2 separate regions of the Homo sapiens genome follow, and region 2 is linked to region 1. Evidence: fine-mapped expression QTL. A gene starts in region 1. The other region holds a variant in brackets. All regions are shown on one strand. Distances are between the middles of the regions.

Evidence for each region.
Region 2: its variant is fine-mapped to the expression of TMEM213 in prefrontal cortex (BrainSeq, PIP 0.95).

What each region holds. Positions count from the first base shown.
Region 1 is chr7:138,788,556-138,803,523 of GRCh38, forward strand. It overlaps TMEM213 (transmembrane protein 213), which reads left to right and starts at 9,439. Exons shown (of 3, transcript NM_001085429.2): 1 at 9,439-9,631; 2 at 12,772-12,843; 3 at 14,345-14,968. The coding sequence starts at 9,550. The coding sequence ends at 14,514. ATP6V0A4 (ATPase H+ transporting V0 subunit a4) reads right to left here and starts at 9,641. Exons shown (of 22, transcript NM_020632.3): 1 at 9,479-9,641. RefSeq lists a silencer at 9,409-9,703.
Region 2 is chr7:138,827,821-138,842,788 of GRCh38, forward strand. It overlaps KIAA1549, which reads right to left. Exons shown (of 20, transcript NM_001164665.2): 19 at 12,313-12,458; 20 at 3,561-10,340. The coding sequence ends at 10,086. Among named protein-coding and RNA genes, the nearest start is that of ATP6V0A4, 37 kb to the left of the region's middle. RefSeq lists an enhancer at 2,564-3,063 and a silencer at 4,144-4,438. The variant T/C (reference allele first, on the strand shown) is at 9,060.

The DNA.
Region 1 (14,968 bases):
GCAGGACAGGTCAAATGCAGCTATACCAAACTCTATAATATCCTACTTTCCTTATAGGAAAGTCATATGGTTTGGCTGTGTCCCCACCCAAATCTCATCTTGAACTGTAGCTCCCATAATTCCCACTTGTTGTGGGAGGGACTCAGTGGGAGGTAATTGAATCATGGGGGCAGGTCTTTCCTGTGCTGTTCTCATGATAGGAAATGAGTCTCACAAGATCTGATGGTTTTATAAATGGGAGTTCCCCTTCACACGCTTTCTTGCCTGCCACCATGTAAGATGTGCCTTTGCTTCTCCTTTGCCTTCTGCCATGATTGTGAGTCCTCCCCAGCCATGTGGAACTGTGAGTTCAGTAAACCTCTTTTCTTTACAAATTACCCAGCCTTGGATATGTCTTTATTAGCAGCGTGAGAACAGATTAATTCAGAGGGCATTCTTCCAAGGTTAAAGATTGGCCCGGATGGTCTCTGAGGTCCTTTTCCAACACTGAGATTCTAATTGTAATCCGATGTTATATCTGTGTCTTCTTTCTAGTCTTCTTTGTGTCCTGACCATCCGTGGATATGTCTGTACATTCCATTGTGACCACGAGCACTCCAAGAGCTGAGGCTATGATAGGCAGTAATCTGCACCATGTGAAACTTAAAGGTTAAGGTTTTTTGGGGGGTTTTTTTTTGTTGTTGTTGTTGTTTTTGTCTTTTTTTCTTTTTGAGACAGAGTCTCGCTCTGTTGCCCAGGCTGGAGTGCAGTGGTGCAATCTCGGCTCACTGCAAACTCTGCCTCCTGGGTTCAAGCAATTCTTCTGCCTCACCCTCCCGAGTAGCTGGGATTACAGGTGCCCACCATCACGCCTGCCTAGTTTTTGTATTTTTAGTAGAGATGGGGTTTTACCATATTGGCCAGGCTGGTCTTGAACTCCTGACCTCAAGTGATCCACCCACCTCAGCCTCCCAAAGTGCTAGGATTACAGGCGTGAGCCACCATGCCTGGCCAGCTTGTTTTTTTAATGGAAAAGAAGATTCCCTGATATTGAACATTTTTCCCAGGTAATGGGACAGATATGTAAAATCTGTCTGCTTCATTGTGACTGTATTGCTTTCCTGTGAAATAATCTTTAAGAATGTATTAACTTAGGCCAGGTGCAGTGGCTCACGCCTGTAATCCCAGCACTTTGAGAGGCTGAGGCAGGTGGATCACCTGAGGTTGGGAGTTTGAGACCAGCCTGACCAACATGGAGAACTCTGTCTCTACTAAAAATACAAAATTAGCTGGGCATGGTGGTACATGCCTGTAATCCCAGCTACTCGGGAGGCTGAGACACTAGAATCACTTGAACCCGGGAGGCAGATGTTGCAGTGAGCCTAGATTGCACAACTGCACTCCAGCCTGGGTGACAGAGCAAGACTCTGTCTCAAAAAAAAAAAAAAAAAAAAAAGTATTAACTTGATTTTATTTCTTGATCATAAAAATAATATACACATTCATTATTTTAAAATGGAAACACAAAAAAGTATTAAAAACAAAATTAAAACCACCCAAAACTGTACATCCTAGATATGACTACTACTAACATTTTGAGAGGATTCATTCCAAACATTTTTCATTGTATATGTGTATATATTACAAAACTGGAATTATATTGACATAAAGATTTATATCCTGCTTTTCTGTTTTGTATACTATGGCAAATGTTTTCCCAAGTGATTAAATGGTACCCAAGAATGTTTTTTGTTGCTGCTGTTGCTGTTGTTTTTTTGAGATAGAGTCTTGCTCTGTAACCCAGGCTGGAGAGTAGTGGCATGATCTTGGCTCACTGCAACCTCTGCCTCTTGGGTTCAAGCGATTCTCTTGCCTCCAGTCTCCTGAGTAGCTGGGATTACAGGCACATACCACCAGGACTGGCTAATTTTTGTATTTTTAGTAGAGATGGGGTTTTGCCATGTTGGCCAGGCTGGTCTCAAACTCCTGACCTCAGGTGATCAGCCCACCTTGGCCTTCCAAAATGCTGGGATTTTAGGTGTGAGCCACCATACCCAGTCCCAAAAACGGTTTTAATAGCTACCCTTTATTTCATTATAAACTGCTTCCAAGCTTTCACTTTTACAAACATTGTAATATTGAGATGGAGAACTTTGGATATGCATTTTTGTGCTCATCTTTGGTTATTTCCTTGGGGATGAAATTTCTAAAGGGCTACACCATAGAAGGAAAGGTATCCAAAATAAACTGACACACATCGTCTCAATTCCTGAGACCGGAATGACATGATAGCAGATTTGTGTTGCCCCCAAGCACTCGATTAAAGCAACAACAACAAAAATCATGTCTACAGGAAGAAAGCATTATCCTGGGTCTCAAGTTATTTCTATAAACAATAGTATGTAATTGCAATTTTGCCCACAATAAAAAATAACCAGGTATGCAAAGAAACATGATCATATGAATGAAAACAGCAGAAATAATAGACAATGGAAATAAACGAATGGGAAAAGAATGGCGAAGACTGAGGTTATCAGACACGGATTTTAAAGGAATTATATCCCCTCTGTTTATGAAGATGAAAAACAGGACTGAATAGTTTGGCAGAAAAAAAAATATAAAAAAGAACAGAATGGAAATTCTGGAACTAAAACTAAGATAATCGAAATTAAGAACCCAATGGGTAGTTATAAAAGAGGATTAGACACAGATGACAAGAGATTTCATAAAAGACTGGGCAAAAGGCAATATCCAGAGTAAAACACAGGAAAACAAAAAGATAAAGAATAAAGAAGAAGGTAAGAGAATTACAGGATGGAGTGGAAAGATCTAACCTATGTGTAATCAGTCACAAAAAGAGAGGAGAGAATGGTTCACAAGTAGTATTTGATGGCTGAGAAGTTTTCAAAACTTATTAATAACATCAAGCTCCATATCCAATTGCCTACAAACTCCAAAGAGGACAAAAAAGGAATCCATACTTCAGCACATCAGAGTAAAACTGCTGAAAACCAAAGGCAAAGAAAAATTTAAAAACAGCCAAAAAATAAAAGAGGCAAATTATCTGCAATGAAGCCCCAGTGAGGTGGACAGTTCTCAACAGAAACAATGGTAGCCAAAAGAAATGAAATGTTATCTTTAAAGCACTGAAAGAAAATATCTGCCAACCTTACATTTTGTACCCAATGAAGGTGATTTCCAAGAATGAAGGAAGAATAAAAACATATCCAGACAAACAAAGTAACATGTTAATCACTCCACTGAGGGAATACTAAATGGTATTCTTCAAAGAGAAGGAAAATGATCACAGATGGAAGACCAGACATGCAGAAATAAATTAAGAACAATAAACCGGTAAACATGTAAATAAATTTAATAAATTTCACTCATATATTCACTTGGAAAATAATAATAATAATGACTTATTGAGTTAAAAACTATGTGTATAACTAACATACATGACTACAATGGTATAAAAATCAGGAGTGGATAGGCCAGGTGTGGTGGCTCACGCCTGTAATCCCAGCACTTTGGGAGGCCGAGGTGGGCAGATCACGAGGTCAGGAGATCGAGACCATCCTGGCTAACACGGTGAAACCCCATCTCTACTAAAAATACAAAAACTTAGCTGGGCGTGGTGGCGGGCACCTGTAGTCCCAGCTACTCGGGAGGCTGAGGCAGGAGAATGGCGTGAACCCAGGAGGCAGCTTGCAGTGAGCCGAGATAGCGCCACTGCACTCCAGCCTGGGCGAGTGGGTAAATGGAGTTAAAGTTCTGAGGTCTTCATATTATCTATGAAAGTGGTGAAAGTGTCAATTAATATTAGACTTTGATATGTTAAGAATGCACTTGTGAGAACATATATTCAGGGTAACTTGGATCTATGCTCCTGGGTTGCAGAATAAAATAATCTTAAAAAGCAACAAAAAAGGAATGCATGTCGTAATCTCTACAAAATGGAATAACCCAACAACTCAATCCAAAAGTAGTGAGAAGAAAGAGAAAAGGAACATAAGCTAGATGGGAAGAGTAGAGAGCACTTGGTAAGCTGATAGATTGATTTGTTTGTTTTTAAATTTTAGAGACAGGGTCTCACTCTGTCACCCAGTCTGGAGTGTAGTGACTCCATCATGGCTCCCTGCCATCTCGGATCTCCTGGGCTCAAGCAATCCTCCTATCTCAGCCTCCTGAGTAGCTGGGACCACAGGCTTGCATCACCAAACTCAGGTTTGTTTTTTTTTTTGTTGTTTTGTTTTTTTTTTTGTAGCAACAGAGTTTCACTATGTTGCCCAGGCTGGTCTCACAGTCCTGGGCTCAAGAAATCCTCCCATCTTGAACAGGGTTTTAGAAAAGTTGAAAGTAATATGATGGGAAAATGATTTAGCATGCCAAACAAAACAAAAGAAACCTGTTATAGCTACAGCAATATCAGACAAAGTAAAGTTTATGGCAAAAAAACATTACTAGAGATAAAGAAGGCTGGGCGCAGTGGCTCACACCTGTAATCCCAGCACTTTGGGAGGCTGAGACGGGAGTCTCACCTGAGGTCAGGATTTCAAGACCAGCCTGGCCAACATGGTGAAACCCCTGTTTCTACCAAAAATACAAAAATTACCCGGGGGTGGTGGCACACGCCTGTAATCCCAGCTACTCAGGAGACTGAGGAAGAAGAATCGCTTGGACCCGGGAGGTGGAAGTTGCAGTGAGCCGAGATCGTGCCACTGCATTCCAGCCTGGGCGACAGAGAGAGACTCCATCTCAAAAATATAAAAGAGATGAGGGATATTACACAATGATTTTTTAAAAGAAGGTTCAATTTGCCAGGAAGTTGTCAAAATTCCGTATTTGTTTGTACCTCAATTACAGCCTCAAATATTGAATGCAAAAGTTGACAAAACTACAGGGAAGAAAGAAACCCGCAATCATCTCTGTATTCAACAGAATAATTAGACCAAATTTTAAAAGACAGGAAAAATATGGATGTTCTGAACCACACAATTAGCACTCTTGATCTAATGGACTTACCCGGAGCACTGACCCCACAACTGCATGACACATTCAAGAGCCACAAAAATTGGTCATATGGTGTCTTTTAACTAACATCAAAAAATAGAAATCATCAAAGTATATTCGCAGGTCACAGTGCAACTAAGCTACAAATCAATAACAAAAAGATAACTAGAAAACCTCCGTATGTTTGGAAATTAAGAAATATACTTCAGAGAAGATGGGAGGGAATAAGATACAGGACCTAGGTGGAAGGTTGTTTTCGCCAAGAGGAAGGACCTCCTTTGTGTTAACCTCCGCGTGTCTGGACCATAGCTGCACCGCCTCCCAGTGCAATTTTGAACAAGCTAAATTAGTCATCCTGGGAAGTGTTCAAAAATTATTCCAAATGGTGGACTCCAGGACTTCCTTGCTGACTTTCTTACTTTGATCAACTAACTCTATGGCATGATCTTAACAGCTGTAGTTCTCAAGGTTTCCTAAAAGGGAACCTCTTGTTCTCTCCAAATTACAGACCCATCACTGAAGGGCAGGGAGTGAGGTTAACTCCTCCACAAACTAAGTGCTGCTCAGGTCCACATCTAGATGTTTCGGTCCCACAACCACCCAGAGCCTGACATTATTTTGTAAAAACAGATCCTGACAGAGCCAGGAGCAAGAAGAGCCATCAACCCCATCTCTGTGAGGGAGCTGGGGCTTGGCAGGCACAGGCTTGGTTAGGGCCACAATTCTCCTCTGAATAGATTTTGGGTTAACTGGAGATGAAAAACCCAAGTTCAAGGTGAGAGGTCTTTTCCCCGAGATGGACAGGTGGCAACGGGGCCTATCAGAATCACAAGAGAAGCTTCATTAACATGAAATATTCTTCCCTGGGCCGTTCCAGGCCACAGACTGCAGGTTTTCCATCTTTTAGCCCTGGAAACTCTCTGCCTACTTCTTTTCTTTTTCACATGAAATCTTATCAGGGATAACAGGTGAAATTGGAAGCAGTAAGAGCCCTGGAATCCCACTCTCTTGGCTACTCCTCTCTCCAACCACCACCATGGTGCCTAGCCACAGACATTTCAGCCTGAACTTTTAAAATAGTGTGTGTAACCAAATACCTATCTCACCCATTTAAAAAAAAAAAAAGTCTTGAGAAAGTCTAGCTTTGAGTAAGGCAACTTCCTGATATGCGCTCCAAAGTAAACCTGATGCAAAATGTATGAGTGAGGAAATGGGCCACATGGAGTTGTTAGTTGTAGACCTGCTACAAACAGCAAATACTGGTGACACTCGTAAAGTAAAAAGTGGCCACACACACACAGCCCTTTCTTTGGGGTTAATAGTTATCATTGGCCAGTCCAGCCCACCCTATTTTTTTTTTTTTTTTTTGAGACAGAGTCTCACTCTGTTGCCCAGGCTGGAGTGCAGTGGCACAATCACGGTTCACTATAACCTCCACCTCCCCAGTTCAAGTGATTCTCCTGCCTCAGCCTCCCAAGTAGCCGGGATTACAGGCATGCACCACCACGCCTGGCTAATATTTCTGAATTTTTTTAGTAGAGATGGGATTTCACCATGTTAGCCAGGCTGGTCTCGAACTCCTGACCTCAAATGAGCCACCTGCCTCAGTTTCCCAAAGTGCTGGGATTACAGGCCTGAGCCACCGTGCCTGGCCCAGCCTATACTATTTTCGAATAACAAAGTTCTTCCATCTGTAGATAGGAGAATGTTTGTCCTACAAACAGCTCATCTAAAACAGTCCGACATCACATAACAATGATAAAATAGGGAGGGAGGGCCAACACATTATCCCCCTCCTCCACATCCACTGCTTGCCAGAAAAGCTTTCCCTGATACGACTTGATAGGATGGTCTCAGCTTAGGCTGCAGATGCTGTTCAATCCACCACTACAATAACCCCAGGCAGGCCATCTTACATGTTTGCATACCTCAGGTTCCGATTCCATAGGAGGGACAGGCTCTGCTCACGTCAAACACATTAAAATGCACCCAGCGTCCCACATTAAATCGTTTCCGTTTAAACATTTCAAGTGAACTGTATAACTTTGCTTTTGAAACAATCATTTATTTTGCCCAGTTTTTGATTGTTCAAATTTTTGTTTGTTTGTTTGGGGACAGGGTCTCACTGTGTCACCCAGGCTGGAGTGCAGTGGTGCCATCTCAGCTCACTGCAGCCTCAACCTCCTGGGCTCAAGTGATCCTCCCACCTCAGCCTCCTGAGTAGCTGAGACTACAGGTGCACACTACCATACCCAAGTAATTTTTTTGTGTTTTTTTTTGTTTGTTTTGCGGAGGCAGGGTCTTACTATGTTGTGCAGGCTGGTCTTGAACTCCCTGGCTCAAGTGATCTTCCCACCTCGGCCTCCCAAAGTGTTGGGATGACAGGCGTGTGCCAATATGCCTGGTCTGTTCTTCAAATTTTGGATCTGAGAATATTTTCTCAGGTCTCAAACATTTTTGAGATCCTTGGAAATCTTGGGGATTCCACGTACCGCTGTTATCCCTAGTACCCATTGGATAAATCAGTCCTGCCCTGTGAAGCCCACTGCAGGGTTTACTTGTGAGGAAAACATCGAGGACAGCATTTGTTCTACTAAGCAGCGTCCTCTCTGTGGGGACCTTGAGTTCCTTGAGCACAAGGGCTGTGTGGTCTTTCTCACCCCCAGGTCCCCACACCGAGAGCCTGGCCTGGCATGCAACTGTTTAATGTTCAACTAGTGGTAATGCCTAAACTGGACTTCTGTGCACTGACTGAAAATCACCCTTCCTAGGGCACGTTGGCCCTATCCCCAAATCCAGGAACATAGGCCACCACTATTTTATATCTTAGAGCCAATTAGAAAAAAGTGCCTCCCCTGGGCTGTTACACTCCACTAGGAAATCTTTCCTTGGGGCTTACTCACGCCTTCTATGTCTTTCCACAGAGCTGGAGTCCACCCCTCACCCTTACCAGGCCCATTCATGCGCAGGAACACTTCCACACATGGCAGGCTGTGTGCACACAGACGATTCCCTCGCCTTTATAGGTGCTATTCCTTTGACTTGAAAAGCCCATCAACTCTAATCTGCACATACAAACTTCAGCACCCAGCCCAAATGTCACTTTCTCTGTGAATCCTTCCCCTATACCTCTCAGGCAGAGTTCATCCCATCCTCCTTTTTATTCCCATCACAGTGGAAGGTACCCCTATTTGAGTCTTGCCAGGTTGCATCAAATTTCTTTCTTCCGGGTTTGGTTCCCTGCTGCACTGTGCTCTCAAGGGGAAGAGGCGTGTCTCAGTCATCTCAGTCTCCAGTGCCTAGGATGAGACCTTTTATATACATGTGGGTCTTCAATAAATGTTTTAGACGGAATGCAGAGCTCTAGTCAAGTTACTCCTCAGCTCAAAATCTCTACAGAACCTTCCCCTTTGCTTCCTGACTTTGTTTCAAATTCCTCTACCAGGCACGCAGAAGCTTAGCCCACAGCTCTCCTCTTGCCTCCCCACCTCACATGCCTTGGCTCACCTGCGCTTCTGGGTGCTGCTGGTACAGCCACCCTCTGACACTTCCTTACCTCTGGACCTTTGCTCATCTGTCCCTCTACCTATAATGCCATCTTCCCCTCTCCCCCTGTCAAAATTCTAGCCATCCTTCAAGGCCCAGGCCAAATGCCATTTTCTTTTTTTTTTTTTTTTTTTTTTTGGAGATGGAGTCTCCCTCTGTCGGCCAAGCTGGAATGCAGGGTCAGGAGCATCTCAGCTTACTGCAACCTCTGTCTTCCGGGTTCAAGCGATTTTCCTGCCTCAGCTTCCCAAGTGGCTGGGACTACAGGCATGCACCACCACACCTGGCTAATTTTTGTATTTTTATTAGAGATGGGGTTTCACCATTTTGGCCAGGCTGGTCTTGAACTCCTGACTTCAAGTGATCCACCTGCCTCAGCCTCCCAGAGTGCTGGGACTACAGGGTGAGCCCCCATGCCCAACCTCAAATGCCATTTTCTTCTTGAAGCATCCCATCAGCAGATGTGGCCTCCACTGTTGAAACCCACAGTGCTTTATCCTCCCAAGCCATTCCTCAAACACGGTTCTGGGGTTGAATGATGCGTGTTTGTAATTAACGCACTTCGACAGCAGGTATCTCCCAACTTCAGCATAGTGGGTGCTCAGTGAATATTGGCCCAAATGGAATTGAGCATCCATGCTACACCTGCAGATGGGAGAGGCAGCAAACTCATGTCCCAGGAACCAGCATGACACAGATCTCTCTTGTCCTCCCCTTGTTTCTCAATAAGGACAATATTTGCGCTCAGGGGAGAAGGGCACAGCTTGCCCCTCCCTTCCTTCCTCAGCCAACGGTTTGGCTTCCCTTCTAGAGAGGTGAGAGAAGGTGTGACAGGCCAAGTTTCCTTTGCTCCACCCCATGGTGTTTCCCCCAAACACCCAGCATAAGTTCACCTCTGGCAGAGTTGCTTTCCAGCTCCTGCAGGTGGGAGTCGACTCACCTGCAGCAGGCACTCGGCACAACTCCGCAGGACCGGCTCACCTGCACCGGGCACTCAGCACAGCCTCCAGCATGCAGCGCCTCCCCGCTGCCACCCGGGCCACCCTGATCCTCAGCCTGGCCTTTGCCTCCCTCCACTCGGCTTGCTCGGCAGGTAGCGTTATGAGCTTTATTCATGGCCAGGCTGGGAAGGGGGAGGGAAGGAGGGAAGAGAGGTGGGAGGGAAAGAAGGAGGAGGGGGAAGATTCTTTGGCCAGGGTTGGTCCTGCGCAAAGGAAGGAGGAAACAGAACTTTCTCATCTGAAGGATTAGGCAGGGGGTGGGAGGTGGGGCTGGGGCAGGGGGGGTCTTAGGTTGGCCTGAGACGGAGATCAGATACTCAATTCCTCAGCTAAGGCAGGAGCAGCCACCTCTCTTGGCCTTTGCCACAAAGAAAGGAAAAAGTTATTTGCTGGAGTCTCACCCATCAGGGGACCAAAATGATATCTCTTGGTCCGCTGTGTCCTGAAGGCTCCTTCTCAGCCCCACTGGGCTGTCGTGCTTTGCAATCCTCCCTGTGCACATTTGTGTCTGACCTTCCCTTTCCTAAGTCCTCCATCCCTCCCTGCCCCTTGTACTTTCTCTGCGACTTTCACAAAACCTGACTGCCAGGAGGGCTGCCATTCACTGTCTCCCACCCTCCTGCCTCCCCGGGCACTGGAAATGCTGGGTTATCTCCCCATTTTCCTGTGGAGGCTGGAAGGCTGATCTACATCCCCTGCCTTGCCCTGCCAGGCCGGGTTCTGCAACTCACGGCAGAGGGACCTTGGTTACCATCTTCTGCTCCTGGCTTTGATCTTGTTCTCAGCCACCTCAGAACACCACCACACTCTCTATGCCCTGCAACACTCCTGCTCCCAAAACCAACCCTGCCCCCAAAGTCCTGTGTCTGCCCCTCTCATCCTCAGACTCTCTTCTGTAGCCACTGCCAGGGGTGTTGGTGTTGAGGTTCAAGACGTGCACTCTTGAGCCGCTGAGCCTGAACCCAGGTCCAGCTTCCATGACTCACTAGCTATGCGACCTCGAGCAAATGACTTTACCTCTCTATGCCAAGTTTCCTCCTTTATCTCATGGGGACAATCATAGTGCTTGTCAAGACGAATTGATGTAATTTCATGTAAAGAACTTAGAAATAGCCCATAGAACACACACAGTGAATGTCAGCAATTATGGTAAGCACATTCATTTTATTTTCCAACTTCACCCCTCCCCAAATAAGAGTGCTGAGTTTCTTTCTACTTACCCCGACAGTGCCTTGCTTATGATGGGAGCTCAGAATCAGAAGACAAGTTTAACTGCACTGAATCGTTGGGTCTTCCCAGCAGCTTTTCTTGTGGAATAGCCCCAAGTAGGGCCAGTCCCTCCCTCGCTTCTGGCTCTGCTTATAAGGGAGGAGGGCGATGTTTAAATTCTTAGGAATTTTCACCGGGGCTATTCCATTTGAACCACAGAAAATTGCTGATATTGAACAATTTTCACCTATAACAATGGCAATTTCATAAGCTCGAACCTAACCCTAGCATTCAGCCAACTAGGGTTTTTTTCCACTCACTTTGGAAGAGGACAACTTCCATTCTAGGTGTAGAGGTGAAATGAAAGTCAGGGCCAAGGAAGTTATTTGAGTCATAAGGAAAATTAGAATAGTGAGGAATCAGTTTCTCCAAAACAAATAAAGACCAGGCTCTAAGCCATTTAGCTGTAAATAATTTACAGTAACAGATTGCATCGAGGCAATTACTATACTTTAAGCAGGACATTGGAGTGGCTTGGGGGTTGGGTGGCATAAAATTAGTCTCAGCAGCAACTTCATGGCTTTAGCTAAACAGCAGGTTTCTTCTGAACTCGTCCTGCTGTGACAACAAGCTCCCTTGAAGGACACACTGACCCACAGCCAGGGGAACCTTGAGAGTTTCCATGCCCACCACTTTTTTTTTTTTCCTTTTTGCATTCCCCAAGAAGCAGAACGAACAGCAATATAATTTCTAGGAAGGTTCTTCCAATCCATCTCTTGGTTTCCATCTACCTAGGTCAGCATGAGCACTGTCTAATAATAGAACTTGCACTGAGGGTGGAAATGTCCCATGTCTGAGTGGTGCTTCCAATATGGTAGCCACTAGTCACACGCGGCAATGGAACCCTTGGCATGGGTCTAATGTAAACAAGAAGCTGAGTTTTTTTTACTGAATTTGATTTTAATAAATTTAAACAACCACAGGTGGCTAGTGGCTGCCGTATTGAACAGTATGGACTTAGAGGTCATCTCTCTTCTTATTGTCAGTTATGGACAGGAACCTGGATGCCTCAGATCCCTAACCCAATCCCACACCTCAAGACAACAGGACTTTAACAATTCATGCTAAAGTCCTTTTTATCTTTCCACTCCTTGCTCATGAATCAATCTATGTGCTGCGTATTCTGGCAGTCTCTGGGCTTGCTTCTATGATGTTTAATTTTTTTTGACAGCCATCATTCTGGAGGCTGGAAGTCCAAGATCAAGGTGTTGATGGTTTGATTTCTCCTGAGGCCTCCCTCCTTGGGTTGCAAATAGACGCCTTCTCACTGGGTTCTCACGTGGACTTTTCTCTGTGCATGTGTGTTGCTGATGTTTCTTCTTCTTCTTCTTCTTCTTCTTCTTTTTTTTTTTTTTTTAGACGGAGTTTCACTCGTCACCCAGGCTGGAGTGCAATGGTGTGATCTCAGCTCACTGAACCTCCGCCTCCTGGGTTCAAGCAATTCTGCTGCCCCAGCCTCCCAAGTAGCTGGGATTACAGGCATGCACCACCACGCCCGGCTGCTTTTGTATTTTTAGTAGAGACAGGGTTTCATCATGTTGGCCAGGCTGTTCTTGAACTCCTGACCTCAGGTGATCTGCCCACCTCGGCCTCCCAAAATGCTGGGATTACAGGTGTGAACCACTGCACCTGGCCTCTTCCTCATCTTATAAGGACCCCGCCATATTGGATTAGGGCCCACCCATAGGACCTCATTTAAGCTTAACTGCCTCTTCGAATGTCCCATCTCCAAATACAATCACATTGGGGTTAGGACTTCAATATATGAAACTTGGGAGAGGGGAACATAATTCGGTCCATAACAGGGAGTTAGCTTTGTTGCAGAAAGCCTCAATATGCCCATGCGGGAGCTTCTATAATACTTTCATAATACTCACTACTGATTTACAAAAAACATTTCAAAATCTATGCCTGGGAATAGCTTTTGCCAGTGCCTCAGACTATCTCCTATCTTTTCTTCCAGAAGCAAGCAGCAGCAACAGCTCAAGCTTGACCGCTCACCACCCAGACCCTGGGACCCTGGAGCAGTGCCTCAGTAAGCTTCTCCTGCCAACTGCTCTAACCCCAGAACTGGCCCTCAGCCTGGGAGGGAAACAAAGGCCTCCCCGCTTTCCGTTGATTGGTGTCAAGTGGGCAAGGGCCTGCCTGGCCTTCCTGTGCACCAGTGTGGTTTGTCCCAGAACTATTTGCAGAGCAGGTCTGAAAGGCTTTCTTGGCTCTGATCCCCATCTAGGTGCACAATCTTTGACACAGATTGCTTTAATGACCCATCCCAGGTCAGCAGCTAACAATGCCCTAGGTTCAAATGCTTGAAGAAGTTTGGAGGTGGAAAGGCCATAAGAAATCATCTAGTCCAACTTCCACCCAATGCAACAGCTTGGTTTTGGCGTCCTTGGCATACATATTTCTTCTTCTTCTATGCACGTTTTTCCTCTTCTTGCCTACTTCTAGCCACAAGGCGCTCAGTAATTCATAGAGCAACCACTATTATGCATGTCTAGCTAATAGAAAGTTTTGCAGCTGGGCGCAGTGGCTCATGCCTGTAATCCCAGCATTTTCGGAAGATGAAGCAGGTGGATCACCTAAGGTCAGGAGTTTGAGACCAGCCTGACCAATATGGTGAAACCCTGTCTCTATTAAAAATAGAAAAAAATTAGCTGGATGTGGTGGCATGCGCCTGTAGTGCCAGCTACTAGGGAGGCTGAGACAGGAGAATTGCTTGAACCTGGGAGGCAGAGGTTGCTGTGAGCCGAAATTGCACCACTGCACTCCAGCCTGGGCAACACAGTGAGACTCCCTCTCAAAAAAAAAAGAGAAAGTTCCACTTTATTTTGTCTGGTTCCCTTTATCCTGCCCTCATTGAATGACCGAATGCATTAACTTAGGCACTTAAAACGAAGGATAGGCTGGGCGTGGTGGCTCATGCCTGTAATACCAGCACTTTGGGAGGCCCAGGTGGGTGGATCACTTGAGGCCAGGAGTTCAAGACCAGCCTGGCCAACATGGCAAAACCCAGTCTCTACTAAAAATACAAAACATTAGCTGGGTGTGGTGGTGCGTGCCTGTAATCCCAGCTACTTGGGAGGCTGAGGCAGGAGAATTGCTTGAACCCAGAAGGCAGAAGTTGCAGTGAGCTGAGATCATGCCATTGCACTCCAGCCTGGGCAACAGAGTGAGACTCTGTCTCAAAAAGAAAAAAAAAAAAAAGGAAGGGGTATTAGGGAATAATACATAGAGGTTAAGAGTATGGCTTCAGAGTCCTGCAGACTTGCGTTTGAGTTCTTCTGCCATCTTGTGATCTTGGGCAAATTACAGCCTCAGTTTCTTCATGTAAAATGGGAATAAAAGTCGCACCTGTCGCTTTGTGAGGAAGGCATAAGCTAACGTGTAAAAGCACGCAGCACAGTGCATGGCACGTAGTAGGCCTCATCAGTGTCAGCTACCGTGCTGTGATTGTTCTGTTAATATTAATGGTAGAGAAGCCTGGGCAGGGCTGGTGGTGCATGCCGTCGTCCTTGCTGTCCCTTCCCCACCAGACGTGGACTTCTGCCCACAAGCAGCCCGGTGCTGCCGCACAGGAGTGGACGAGTACGGCTGGATCGCGGCAGCTGTTGGCTGGAGCCTCTGGTTCCTCACCCTCATCCTGCTCTGTGTGGACAAACTGATGAAGCTGACTCCAGATGAGCCCAAGGACTTGCAAGCGTGAGACCCAGGCTCGGTGCACAAAATGGTGATCGCCACCAATTTGTGGCTAATGGGGAAGGGGAGTAAGGCTAACATGGTTTCTATTATTTAAGTCATTTTCACCTTTAAGCTTCAGTTACTTTTACAAGGGAAAGAAGAAAGAGCGGGAGAACCAAATAAGGCAAGCCAGTGCTGCCCTTGCATGTCACTCCCAAGGGCCCCTGGGCTGTGCCCAGGTAACTCCTCTCTCAAGATAGTCCCTCTGTAATGTATCCTGTTTTAACCTTTCTTCTAGGCACCAAGGGAGGTGCACAAGAAACTATAAGACTTAGTCTCATCATCAACATTTTCAGAAGCAAGTGCATAACCTTCTCACCAAAACCAGGTTATCTGCTTCTGTCCCTGGCTTGAGTCCTGGGCTTAACTGTCATTTCAGAATCTGAGAATCAGTCAGGTATGGTGGCTCATGCCTGTAA
Region 2 (14,968 bases), 39 kb after region 1:
TTTTGGAGGAAGTTTTACTGTGGGTCAAATGCTATCAAACAGCATTACATGCTGCAGAGACATCTTCCGTCAAAGAAAGTGTCCACGGAAGTGGCAAACTTCATTGTTGTTCTATTTTAAAAGAAATTATCACAGCCACCCAAACCTTCACCAACCACCACCCTGATCAGTCAGCAGCCATCAACATGGAGGCAAGACCCTCCACCAGCAAAAACATTAGGACTCACTGAAGGCTCAAATAATTGTTAACATTTTTTTAACAACAAAGTATTTTTAAATCAGGGCATGTATGCTTTTTTAAAAAAACAGAATGCTGTTGCATACCTAATAGGCTACAGTATAGCTACACATAGCTTCTGTATACAGTGGGAAATCACAAAGTTCGTGACCTGCTTTACTGCAGTGGTCTGGAACCGAATTTCCAGTATCTCCAGGGTATACCTGTACTTAAACTAACGCATATTTTCAAGATACTGATGGAACCAGCTACCAATCAGGCACTCAGAAACAGCTTTATGAGTTTTCCAGATAGGTTCTGTGTCTTACACTTCTGTAATGCTATACTTTGGCACAAATACAACAAATAATAGTTCAGCTACACAAATGTGGTTTACCTAGATTTGTGGCTACAATTTTTCAAGTCTTCAGCAGTAGAGAAATCAAACTCACCCACCCCCATTTATTCCAGGATGTGCAGAAGGGTGTGGCAAGGAAAGTACCGAGTTCTGTAGAGGGAGAAAGTTACTTAATAGGGCACTATCCGATGAGAACTTTTCATTAATAATCTAACTTAGAAACTGAACAAAAGGATCTCTGTTCTTGTTATTCTTTTCTTCTTACCTTAAGCTCTGCTTGGCAGGTGCAGAGAGGAAGAGGACAGAGGGACAAGAAATGCCAATTATGACTCAAATCCCTATTCATTTATTTATTTTTGAGACAGAGTTTCATTCTTGTCACCCAGGCTGAAGTGCAATGGCATGATCTCGGCTCACTGCAACCTCCACCTCCTGGGTTCAAGCGACTCTCCTGCCTCAGCCTCCTGAGTAGCTGGGATTACAGGCGCGTGCCACCAAACCCGGCTAATTTTGTATTTTTTAGTAGAGACGGGTTTCTCCATGTTGGTCAGGCTGGTCTCGAACTCCCGAACTCACGTGATCCGCCTGCCTCGTCCTTCCAAAGTGCTGGGATTACAGGTGTGAGCCACCGCGCCTGGTTATATTCATTTGAACTGGGGGTTCAGGCTCTGAGCGTGGGATCAGCCTGCCCTTTCTTGTAAGTCTTAGCTGTTTCTAGTAACTCCCTGCTCTTCTGTCATTTCAAACCTATTTACATTCAGAGCATATAAAATCTTGTAATGAGTTCTACCAGTTAGTTTCCACTATTTTTGTTGTTTTCCATCTAAAGTTAGATTAAAACATAAAATTATTAAAACTGTTATAGTTATTTCTTCAGTTATGTGTAAAATATTAAATATCTGACCGTTGTGTGTATATTGTCTTTTTTAAAGATTTCTTTTCTGGCCGGGTGCAGTGTGGATCACACCTGTAATCCCAACACTTCGGGAGGCCAATGCGGGTGGATCACCCTGAGGCCAGGAGATCGAGACCAGCCCGCCAACATGGTGAAACACTACCTCTACTAAAAATAGAAAAATTAGCCAGGCGTGGTGGAGTACGCCTATAGTCCCATCTACTCTGGAGGCTGAGGCATGAGAATCGCTTGAAGCTGGGAGGCAAAGGTTACAGTGAGCTGAGATTGCGTCACTGCACTCCAGCCTCAGGGACAGAGCGAGACTCTGTCTCAAAATAAATAAATAAATAAAATAAAATAAATCCCTTTTGAGAACTTATTTTTGGTTTCGGCAAATTTGCTTAGACTTTTACATAATATCCTGTTCTTAGTTCTTTTTAACCTCTTTAAACATCTAACGTATTATTTATCTCTTTCATACTGGCCTATTTTCTTGGATTTTTAGGTTTAAATTCTCCTTTTGGTTGACCCCACCAGCCCTCCTTCTTGAAGGTTTATTTTCTGCCAAGACTTGCAATTGTTAACTGTGGTTTCAAAGCTAGCAGCTCGCCCTGAGAAGTACCAGAGCCCCTGGGTTGTGGATGCACAGGACAGGATTATATGAGCCTCTGCAGAAGGTCTGTGGGCTTTACCTGTGCCAGATTCGTGTTTATATTTTTAAATACTTTTAGATTTAGAAAAAAGATAAAAAGATGCAAAAATGATTTAGAGGGTTTCAGGATACCTTTTACATAGCTTCCTCTAATATTAAAATCTCAATAACCATAATAAAGTTAGCAAAACCAGTACGTTAATCTTTGTACAATACTGTTAACTATAGACTTGATTTGGATTTCACGTTTTCCCACTATATTCTCTTTTGTTGTTGCTGTCATTCCAAGATCCTATCCAGGATTCTGTGTCATTTAGCTGTTATATTCCACTGTGTTTTGAGTTCCTTTTCCAAGTTTTGTTTTTGTTTTTTTGAGACAGAGTTGCACTTTGTCACCCAGGCTGGAGTGCAGTGGCGCGATCTCGGCTCACTGCAACTTCTGCCTCCTGGGTTAAAGCAATTCTCCTGCCTCAGCCTCCCGAGTAGCTGGGATTACAGGCGCCCGCCACCATGCCTGGCTGATTTTTTTTTGGTATTTTTATTAGAGATGGGGTTTTGCCATGTTGGCCAGGCTGGTCTTGAACTCCTGGCCTCAAGTGATCCACCCACCTCGGCCTCCCAAAGTGCTGGAATTAAGGCGTGAGAAACAGCGCCCATCCCCTTTTCTAAGTTTCAAGGGGATCTTGTTTTCTTGGGTTGTGTAAACAACTCCAGGGTTATCCTATTACCTTTCAAGACTGTGTGGACTTTGGTCTTCTCATCTTTCTAAATTGTGAGGCACTAATCTTTTAATTCCAAACTGAATTTGCTCTTAGTGGATTCATCCATTTGCTAAGTGGGTAGCAGTCAAACTACACTGAGTAGAAAGGATTGGCACAGGCAAAAACGAGTGAAAACAAGTCTGCAAATTCCACACACTGAATAGAATACCTTCAACTTAATTTCTTGGACAATGAAAGTGAGGCAGGAAAATGGGGTCTGGAGTAGGGGACATAAGGCCGAGCCACAGTTCAGCTATGACAGGAAACATCCTCTCCATAGGGTGTACGTCGAGTAAATGACTGTGTGACTTTACTTAAACCTCTTCATTTACATAGGGCGTACACCAAGTAACCAATGGAAACCCCTAGAGGGTATTTAAACCCCCACAAATTCTGTAACCGGGCCCTTGAGCCCCTATGCTCAGGCCTGCTCCCACACTGTGGAGTGTATTTTCATTTTCAATAAATTCCTTCATTCTTTCCTTGCTTTGTGTGTTTTGTCCAACTCTTTGTTCAAGACGCCAAGAACCTGGACACCCTCCACCAGTAACAAAAGTACTGGGTGTTCTCACCAGAGACACAAAATTAGAGAACAGAAAGATCATCTCATCCAATGTTTCATGTTTTACAAACGAGAAAACTATCATGTTGCAAAGGAAATCAACAGAAAATATCACTTTGACACCAATTCATAGCATTTATTGACATTTCCATTTAAAATGCTAGGAAAGCTGTATAAATTGTAAACATGGAAACCAAATACTTGCATAAATTATTTCAAAAACTCTACAGCACATTAGAAAACAGTGCAGCTATTGAAGGATAGAAACATAAAACCGACAAATAGAAGGGAGGGGCCGATTATTAAATCGTATACCCATACTGAGATTTCAGTGCCTGTTTGAGGACCAGCAAACCATGATTGTCAAGTTTAAGTTGCAGTATTGATGCCACAGTTGGCCTCAATTTGCTCTGCACATTTCGTACATTAACGCTCATAATCTAGGGATGAGTGTGCAGGAAGAGCCAGAAAAACATGGACCTTGACAAAGGAGGGAGAGACAAGTCAGTACTCCAGGGCAGCTCTGCCGAGCAACCTTTCCTATTAACGCTAGCCAGACTCCCTGCGTCCCAGAGATGCTCCGGAGGAGGGCAAAGTCGAGGGCGTTCCCACTCCCCTTTTCTGAAACAAGTCCTCTGGTGCTTAGAGCAACTGAATGAATGGGTGGAGCCTCAGTTCCTCTAGTATCTCCCTCTTCTTTCCCCACATTTGCAGGAGGAACAGTACAGCATATGCGACTTGAACTTGGCCCTGTACTATTCCCAACTTGTACACTTAGGGAGTCAAGTTATGAATACTTGAAATCTGGTAAGTACAGGAAAGACTATTCGTGATGCTCCAAGTAGCCCAGAAAGGTTCTGTGTAATCAGGGACTGCAAGAGACTCAAGTCACTCAAAATTTCACCTCTGTCCCTTTTACCTATTCCTTTTTTTTTTTTTTTTTTTTCCAGAGACAGGACCTCACCCTGCAGCCCAGGCTGGAGTGCAGTGGCGTGATTATAGCTCACTGCAGCCTCCAACTCATTGGCTCAAGCGATCCTCCAGTCTTAGCCTTTCGAGTAGCTGGGACTACTGGCACATGCCACCATGCTCAGCTAATTTTTAAATTTTTTTTGTAGAGACGGGGTCTCGTTATGTTGCCCAAGGTGGTCTCAAACTCCTGGCCTCAAGCGATCCTCCTGCCTCAGCCTCCCAAAGCGTTGAGATTAGAGGCTTGAGCCACCATGCCCAGCCTATTCACTCTTTCTTTAGAAATGTGAAGTGACCCCTGAAAAACCTGGAGGAAGAAGGAAAAGGAAGGATCCTGGATAATTATCTACCCTGTGGGAAGCCATTTTAACTATACTGCATTAAGACATTCATTGCTTCTGTCACTTTCTTACTGGCTCCTAACTTTGTTTCATGTTTCCAAAGGCATTTAATATTCTTTTCCTAAATTTCAATGCTGCTGTGTTTTAAGATAAATTATCAAGCCTACTGTCACACACACAAGCATGGACTTAGCAATGTACCATGATGTTGCGATTTCCAAGTCATCTTCATAGTGGAGAAAGTAGTCCTGTTTAAACACTGACAATCACCTCCACGAATATCAAAAGAAACCCGAAATGCACATCCTCCTTGTTCATTAGGTAACAAGTGTTAAGTCTATCATAGTTGATGAGTATGTTACAGCAGCTGCTCATAGAAACCCTGTTAGAACGTGTTAACATGTTAGATTAAATGTAAAAATGAAGTTCAGTTGACTATGCCATAGAAATGTGTTTTGTGTTCACATGCTCTGTCTGCCGGTACAGAAGTGGACTTCCTCCTGCTCCTGTCCAGGGCAAATGTGGATAAGCAGGCTCTAGTACTGGCGCTGGCACCTTGCTCCGGAGGTAGAAATGACCACGGTGAAAACTCCACTTGAGCTAAAGTTAGCGTGGGAGTTAAGACCGGAGTCCTCCTTCCCCTGTGCCCAAAACGTTACCCAGCTTTCCTTCCAAACGACAAATTCATTCATGTCTGAGAATCTAGTGTGAAAGGGATGAGAGAGACTTATATAACAACTAATTTGTGAATTACTGCCAATGCACTGCAAATCAGTGTCCGAATGACTGGCTTGGTCACTGGAACACTTAGAAAAAAGTTGTGCGAAAGAAGGAACGCTGAACCTGTCCACGGGAAACGGGAGACTCCTATAGCACAGAACCGCGTGCTGGCTTTAGCCCAAAGCCTTTAGCGCCTACCTTCACCCGTGCTTTGCCTCACAGTCCGCATGCCAGGAAAGATCTGGCCGGCAAACACCCACTGCTTAAAAGTCATCTGCCACCCAAATCAAAACACTATGAAATTAATAAAATTTGGAGAAAAATGTGTAGGTAGCAGTAAAGAAGCTGAATATATATATAGATAGATAGACAGATACATAGACAGACAGACAGATAGATAACCCACTATGCTCCACAAAGGATATGGCGTGGCCAAACGGCTGCTTGAGATCTGCTCTAAACAATGACCTCAGTGTCATTCTCATCATTTTCGTCCTCTTCCCTTGCCTCCCCCACACTGGAGTACTTCCTCTGTAGATCTTCACAGCCCTGGTCGTTTCCTTGCTGCATGACTGCAAAAGCATCCTTCCAGCACCTCTTCCTTCTCTTCTGAAACTCCCTCAATAGTGCAGTCGGGGATTCTGTCCCCATATCAAAGCAGATCAAGATCAAGTTCATTTCAGTGACAGCTTCACTCCTTCCCTACAGCCTTTCCCAGGCCCACTCTCAGCTCTTCCTTCCACGCCATTTGCCTGGGTAGCTGCCCTGCCTTCAAAGTCACTTCAGAAGTTGACGTCTCCCCAAGATATTGCATTTCCAAACATGCAACTTCTTCTGGGTGCCTAATTCATTTATGTCTTTTGAACAAATTTTTTTCTTTTTGAGACACAGTCTTGCTCTGTCGCCCAGGTTGGAGTACAGTGGTGCAATCTCAGCTCACTGCAACCTCCACCCCCCGGGTTCAAGCAATTATCGTGCCTCAGCTGGGACTACAGGCATGCGCCACCACACCCAGCTAGTTTTTGTATTTTTTTGTAGAGACGGGGTTTTGCCATGTTGCCTGGGCTGGTTTTAAGCTCTTGATCTCAAGTGATCCACCTGCCTCAGCCTCCCAAAATGCTGGGATTACAGGCGTGAGCCACCGCGCCTGATCTCTTCGAATGAATTTTATTGACACTTAAACCATGTTATTTATCGGTATCTTCCATCTTCTATACCCACTCGTGCTATCTTAGATTCTAAAATCTCAGAAGGCAAGGCTCATGTCTGCTGGGTTATTTGGTGCCAGAGACACCAGAAAGTCGGGAGCAGAAAGATGCTTAATAAATGCAATCGGAAAATTGGTGAAGGAAGTGAAATTAAAGCAAAATGGGAGTGAGGAAACTGAGTCACACCGAGCTTTCGGTTTTGCTCATTACCCATGTGTGAACCCATTCACCGCAGTAGTGCAGCGTTTCACATCACTCATCCTAGGGCGTCCACATAGACAGCATGCTACATTTTCACAGTGCTTTATGCTCCCTCCTCACAGGACATCTGCACACATGATCACATCTGATTCTCACAACTACGGTGCCTGGGAGGTGGCGGGGGAGGTCTGTTCTTGTTTGGCTTATGGGGAGAATGAAGTTCAGAGAAGGAACCAGACATGGTCAGTGAGTGACAAAGTAGTCTCTGAAAAAAAAAAAAACAACATTTCTCCAAACATTCTGACTCAAATTTACAGTTTGTGTTACCACTAGAACTTTTAAAATAGGAAAAAAGAATAGACATAAAATTCAACTGTTCATTGTAGAGTGCTTCCATAAACGGACTCCAAAGCCACACGCTGTCAACGCAAGGACCCTTCCTTTCAGTGGATGACGTGAACTTAATGTCTGAAGACCGCTAGGGTACGGTGCTGCTCACACAGCTAGTTTTTTCTGAGTTTGGTGACTGGCAAAACTGTTGTGGCAGGCGTCGAGAGGAAGCAAGTACAAACTGTGTGTGCTTTATGACCACCAGCAGAGGGCTGGTGATCCGGGGGCCTGCTCACACCACACCATAACCACCGGCTGTTTATTATACATCATCTTTGGTCTTGACATCTGTTTAAAGGTGTATTGTTTCTAAGAATAAAAATACAGTTAAAATCCCTTTATGGTAGTTTGAAAGACATCAAAATTGCTTTTACGGTCAGCCCAATTTGAAACAGAACCCTCTTTCTGCAATGCTCAAAGGAGGTTACCATTTTTAGCACACTCTATGTGCAAGCCTGTATGGCCCTGAGCGGAACTGGGTGAGAAGGGGCCATTTATCCCGTTTGCTGTCACACGATTTGAATTCATTACAAGGTGTCCATAATAAAATTCTGCTTGGATATCTGAAATTCTTAATAACATATTCAGGAAACCTGGTATTTTTGAGTGACATACAAAGATAATCGTTCAATTTGGGAGGAGTCGGGTATTAAACCAAGACCAAGAGAAATTTGGTATTAAACCAAAACCAAGACATCAAGCCCAGAAAGGGGCATTCTCTCCAATGCTCCTTGGAGCCTCTGAGGATCGCCTGATAAGATGCTGCTGGTCCTTTGTTGAACGTCCTTGAGAGACTTACTCTCCTGCACTCCTTCTCTTTCAGAGGTGCCCAGATGAAAACTGGCTACATCTTACCTTCCCAGAACCAACTTCCCTCATATTGTAAGACTCTAAATCTGTACAACAGGCTTCATTAATGAAGGGCTAAAACATGGTTTTGAAATCCAGTGATTACACTTTGGAAACCTGTTTTAGCTGTTTCAGGGGTCTTAAAACTTGACACAGATACACAGGTTTTGATCAGTCAGAGCCCCAAATTCTATAGCCCCTTATCTGTTATTTAATGAAAAGTACAGTCATGCACACATCAGGATGTTTTGGTCAATGACGGTCTACATATTGATGGTAGTCCCATAAGATTATAAAATTGTATTTTTACCATACCTTTTCTATGTTTAGCTATGTTTAGATACACAAATACTTACCATTGTGTTCAGTACAGTAACATGCTGTACAGGTTTGTAGCCTAAGAGGAATAGGCCATGCCACACAGCCCAGGTGTGTAGTAGGCTATACCATGTAGGTTGTGTAAGTACAATCTAGGATGTTGGCACAGCAACAAAACAGCCTAATGACACATTTCTCAGAATGCATCCCCATCATTAAGCGATGCATGACTGTCTTCGCTGATCTAATAAAAACAGGTTAATAGTGAAAATCTCTTAGCTAAGCCTGCTTTTCTTCTGAGTTTCACTCAGGTACCAGAAAACAGAACAGCCCTTGCCACTGTTTTCTTTACCATTATTTGGAAAGTGGGGGAAATGTTTACATCAGGAGTACATCTTAAGCGAGATGATCCCCTCTTAGCCCAAAGAGCATAAGACAATTTTAATAGCCACTCGACAGAGTAACAGCACAATAAAATCAGAAATGAGAAGCAACTCTCTCCTTTCCCTTGGGGTCTCAAAGCTCTTTTACATTTCTTGATTCATTACAGAGAGGCTGAACTGAACTCAATTTCATTTCCAGGCTCTGAACACAGGGAATGTGACTGGTAGGGATGTA[T/C]GTATAACAATTTCGTGGTGCTGGGAATTATTAAATAACTTCTGCTTACAGAAGATTTCTCATTCAGACATAATTTGTGAACAAATCAACAGCAAAGTGGAAGAAAGGATCAGTTAGGACCTCTTGAAAGCCGCATTCTACAGGATCGGCCTTAGCGATCGGTGCTGAACTGGGACATGACCAGGAGTTGTGTGTGCCCAATTAAGAAACAGCAAATACAATGAAGAATGTAGATCTAAACTTTGATCTGTATTTTGGATAATCAAATAAATATAAAGCTTTTTGCCCCACTTTGGGAGGGATTTTTTTTTTCTAGAACAAAATGAAACCTTCAACATATTCTTCCACTGAAAAAGCCAAAGTTCCATTTCAGACATGAAGGTGAAGGGCCCTTGGAGCTGTAGCACCAGAAGAAGGAGGAAGAATGCGGGTGATGGCTTTGTTTGGAGTCATCAGGCTCTACAACCTATCATTTGGTTTCTCACTAGTAGCTTTTTAAAATTCCCAAACAGTCTTAGTATTCTTGTTGTTAATGTTACTATTAAAATAAGTTCCTATGGAGTAAAAGAGAAAAATTAAGCTGTTAATAAAATGTCTTCAAACCTCTTCTCAGAAAACAAAGCAGCAGGTTCATCGTACACGTACCAGTCTCAATCCCACAGAAACGCTTGGTTCCTTTCATCCCTATGCTGTCTATACAGTTTAATCTCTACCTTTAAAAAAGAGACGAATGCAGTCATTTTGTTAGCTTAGGTTTGTGTTTTGTTTTTGTGAAGTGCTGCTGGCTTTTGGCCAAAATACATATATTTCAACTGAACCCAAGTGTTCAGACAATTGCCAGCCCAGTGAAAGGCTCATGAGCTGTCACACGACGTATGGCATCTTCTAAATTGCAACTTGCTCCCTCCCTTGGGCAGGCTGCCCGAGAGTTGCTCCTTCCTCTTCCAAACACCCACTCAGTTGATTTCCTTTTGGTCTTGCTTCCACAGGAAGCGGATACTTGGCAAATCTGCGAGGCGAGGCCGATCAGCTGTGGAAGTTCTGCACGGTGCTCTGTTTCTGGGAGAGCCGGAGGAGCTCCTCGCGGATTGCTTTGATGAGAGAGGCCGAGGAGTGGCCAGGCTGGAGGTCTTCCGTGGAGCTGGTGGGGTAACCCAGCCCAGGGCCCTGCAGTCCCCGGTGGGGGAGGTTCCCGGAAGGAGCTGAGGGCTCCCTGCCTGAAGTCCTTGGCACCTGAAATAGCGGTGAAGAAGAATACTCTTGATGTCCGAGCATGTGTGTCTGAAAAACATGGCAAACGTCACTGTACTTCCTACGAAGAATAAGCCGAAACATCAAATGCAAACTGGCTTTAGGAAGGTTCCCAGGACTGCCCACGTCCATCCACCAACTCAGCCCTCTAACAGGGCCCTGCTGCCTATGCTGCAGGTGAGGCGTGAAGACACCAGGGGGCTGGGGAGAACAGAAGGGAGGGAGGCTGGAGTGCCCCATGATGTGAAAGGTCGGGTGATATCTGAGAGCTGAAGGAGGTTAAGCGGATCCATGCCAGGCTGACAAGGGGAACAGGTGCCTCTGCCCTGGACTGGAGCCTACGCAACCATCTTCTGCTTTATCTAGCTGCTGTCTGTCTCCTGTCTCTGCGTGAGTGTGTGTCTACTGAGGGCTCTGTAGAGCCTTGTCTTTAAAAACTTATCTGCACTAAAGCATAAAATAGTTTTGCTGATATTTGCCGCATAGAGATTAATTTGGCAGGAGTTTCACAAGAATTATTACACTTTTCAGATTTTTTTTTCATGTTTATTTCTCTCCCAGTGGAAATAAATGTCTCTTTGCATTTATATGTAAGAGTACTTAAATCTGCGTACTAAAAACCATGTTAGGGCTAAGTTATTTGTGAGCCAAACATGACATTCCAGCTCTAGGTTCTTTCTACGTTTCACTTCTCCAAATAGTGACCGAGCAGTGTTCCAAAGTGGATGTGACAGGAAAACCTTAACACACCATGCCAGGCACGGTGTCTCATACTTGTAACCCCAATCCTTTGGGAGGCCAAGGAGAGAGGATTGCTTGAGGCCAGGAGTTCAAGACCAGCCTGGCCAACATAGTGAGACCTTGCCTCCATTTTTTCAAAAAAACAAAACACCAAAACCAACCCCAAACACCTCATGAAGCTAAGCTGGGCAAAATGAAGGCAAAAAAAGAGAAATGGCAGCAAACTTAAAGCAGATACCTGAGACTCTAAGTATAACAATGTCTCTTTTAGGGAAGCACCTTATTCTAAAGTTAATGTCTTTTTACTAGGTAAGAGCATCCAGCCATGAAAGGAATTGAGTGTGTCTGTTGGGAAGGCACAGAAATGCAACAGACACTGTAGCATAACGATAAGGAGAAAACAAAAAGTAATATTCTGGGTGGTTATTTTCAAACTTCATGAATTTATCCCCCCAAGATATACAGTTCTTGAGAAAAGCAAATGAAAGCACTTGTAGGAATTACCGATGCTCATATTGAGTGAACAGAAGTCTCAAAAAGAAAACCTGTGCCTTAAAATGTCCCCAACTGTGTGCTTATTACAAAATTACCTACACATGGTCATAATACAAATGACATTAACAAACCCACAGTGAAACACAAATGCTGTGGAAGAGCATGAATATTTATACAGCAATCCCGCCAAACATGAACTCCAGAGTTGTCACCTATAGATTCGAATTTACTACTGAAAGCTTGAACTCTGCCTCAAGAAAAATTATATACTTCCTAAAAGCTAGATGCTAAAAACTGTAAGCCAAAACACCAGGAGGCAGGAAAATGTGAGAGAGATTAAAACTTTTTTAAATGTAGGTTTTAAAAAGGGACCCCCCCCAAAGCAGAAGCTGCTAAATTGAGGGATTATGTCTTTTTTTTTTTTTTTTTTTTTTTTTTTTTGAGACAGTCTCACTCTGTCACCCAGGCTGGAGTGCAGTGGCACGATCTCGGCTTAGTGCAACCTCCATCTCCCGGGTTCAAGTGATTCTCTTGCCTCAGCCTCCCAAGTAGCTGGGACTACCAGCACCCGTCACCACGCCTGGCTAATTTTTTTTTGTATTTTTAGTAGAGACGGGATTTCACTACATTGGCCAGGCTGGTCTCAAACTCCTGACTTCGTGATCCGCCCGCCTCGGCCTCCCAAAGTGCTGGGATTACAGGTGTGAGCCACCGCACCTGGCCTATGTCTAAATTTTAAATGATGACCCAAACAGGAGATACTCACGGCCTCTCTTCGCCCCGCTTCGTCCTCCCCGTACGAAGGCCAGCCTGGCCCCCCATACTGGCTGCCTCTGCTTGGCGGGATTTCCACTGGCTGAGCTCCAATTCTGCTGGCAATCCCCACCTGTGTCAGGTGCTGGATCTGGGAGCCTGGAAGGAACATGGTGGAGTGGCCTGGTCAACATTTATAGGAGAGTATGGCTGCTGAGGATGGCTGCCGAGGAAGACACTGTCAACTCTGACCACTACACTCCTTAATGACAAGGGATCAGGACTTGGTACCAGTTCTATCTCCAGAAATCTCACCTCAACTGCCATACTGTCAGCATTTCCTGAGGGTCCCATAGGTAAGGAAATGCACCACGAAGCGGTAGGAAAATGTACCACGAAGCACCGTGGACCAAGCAATAAAAATAAACAAATAAAAGAAGAAAATCCCATTGCAAAAAAAGTCTGAAACAGAATTCTTGACCCCGTGACATTCATCCCTAAGCCTAAGTCTGTCCCCCATTTCGCCCTCCCCATTTCCACCCAGGGCTGTGCAGCCCTACTTGCTCAGATCTAAAAACCTACACCCTATGCGCCACTCCTCTTTCCTGCGCACTTCTACCAGCCCATCAGAAAGCCCACGGGCTCCTCTCCTGAAACACTGTGTGAGGGTGACCCCTCCTCCCTGTGAGCACCACAACAGCCCCAGTGGAACCACAATCCCACCCCTGATGCAACTGTTTTGGAAACACCCTGTCAGAAGACACTGTCAGCTCTGATCACTGCACTCCTTAAGGACAAGGGATCATGACTTGGTACCAGTTCTATCTCCAGAAATGGCATTTCCTAAGAGCAACAGACCATAAGCTTCTTGGTTCCTGGACTCTGATTTTCTTTTAATTCAGAGGCTGACAGTGATGCCCTTATTTTCGTGGCTAGACATTAGGACTGGGGATAAACGGTACCACAGAAGGTACTTCCATTCATCTCTGTGGCAGTTACCAACAAGGAGCAGCTCATTTATTAAGAAAGGGGTGACAGGTTTGGGAGCCACCATGAAGCTGAAGCCTGGCTCTTTCTTGCTTGTGGCTTCGAGATTCACAAGGAGCTGGTTATACAATATGCTTATTTTTTTCCCCTTAAAAGGCAGAATACGTATCTATTTAAATTCAGCATATTGAAGTATATTTTCATTATAACCCATATTGTGTCTGTAATGTAGCCACAAGACAATTAAAACCACTCCCCCAGCCTCACTGGTGCGGTGAGCTGATGGCAGAGCCAGAGGACTCTCTAGAGCTAATTACCCCCCTATACCCAGACATCTGCAGCCTCCTGTGGCTATGGAAGCCAGGTAATACACAATGTTTTTCTCCCTCACCAACTTCTGTCGTATGGAAATATACCTATATTGCAAATTAAGGGCGAACAAAGTGATCCTTAAGCACTGTGAAATAGAATACTTATTTCTAAATTTGGAAATTTCATCAAATTCACCAGTGATGCTCAGACTGGAACCACAAAGGCTCCAAGCGTCCATATCTAAAGGAGGCACCTCCTCCGTCTTTAAGTCTATTCCTACTCTAGTTGTCTAATTAATAACCTCCATTCTCTCAATTCTTTATTTTAAGAGATGGGGTCTCACTATGTTGGCCAGGCTGGTCTTGAACTCTTCCTAGCCTCAACTGATCCTCCCACTTTGGCCTCCCAACATGATGGGATTATAGCTGTGAGCTATCGTACCTGACCGACAACCTCAATTAATCAACCACATTTAAAAAAAAAAAAAAAGAACTCCTCGATGGTTTTATTCGGATATTTAATGATAACTAAAAGTCAGGAAAAGCTGTCCTGGCTCTGGGCAGAGCAATGCACTCTACTGGAGCACCAGGTCAGTTACTGAAAAATCCTAACAGTATTAAAATGATCAGGACTACCAGCACTCCTTGCCCAACAGACGTTGTTTGAGCAAATCTTGCAAAATGCTGCAAGAGCAGCGCGGTGTTCCCTGTTTCCAAAGGCTCAACCAACTGCACAGGGAGAAAAGCACACCTTCTGTGTAAAGCCACTCCAGTAGCTGAAATCATCATTCGGTAGGATTTTGTATCCTGTGTTGTTCACTTAACTATACAGCACAGGCTTCCCCCATGAGTCAGCATTGAGCCCAGCAAGCCGGGGTTTGCATTCCAGCTCAGCCATCGACAAGCCATGTGACCCTGAGCAACGGGCTATGGCTACCGCTGAGCCTTGATTCCTCACTTCTCCAGCAGGAATAAAAAATCTACCTCAGCTGGGTGCAGCGGCTCACGCCTGTAATCCCAGTACTTTGGGAGGCTGAGGCGGGCGGATCACCTGAGGTCAGGAGTTCACGACCAGCCTAGCCAACATGGTGAAACCCTGTCTCTTCCAAAAATACAAAAATTAGCCGGACGCAGTGGCGGGCACCTGTAATCCTAATCATAGCTACTTGGGAGGTTGAGGCAGGAGAATCGCTTGAACACAGGAGGCGGAGGTTGCAGTGCGCCGAGACTGTGCCACTGCACTCCAGCCTGGGCGACAGAACAAAAACTCTGTCTCAAAAAAAAAAAAAAATCTACCTCAGAGGGTTATTTCAAGGATTAAAAGACATAAAACAGATGAAGCATCAAACACATAGGAGGCAACTGGTAAAT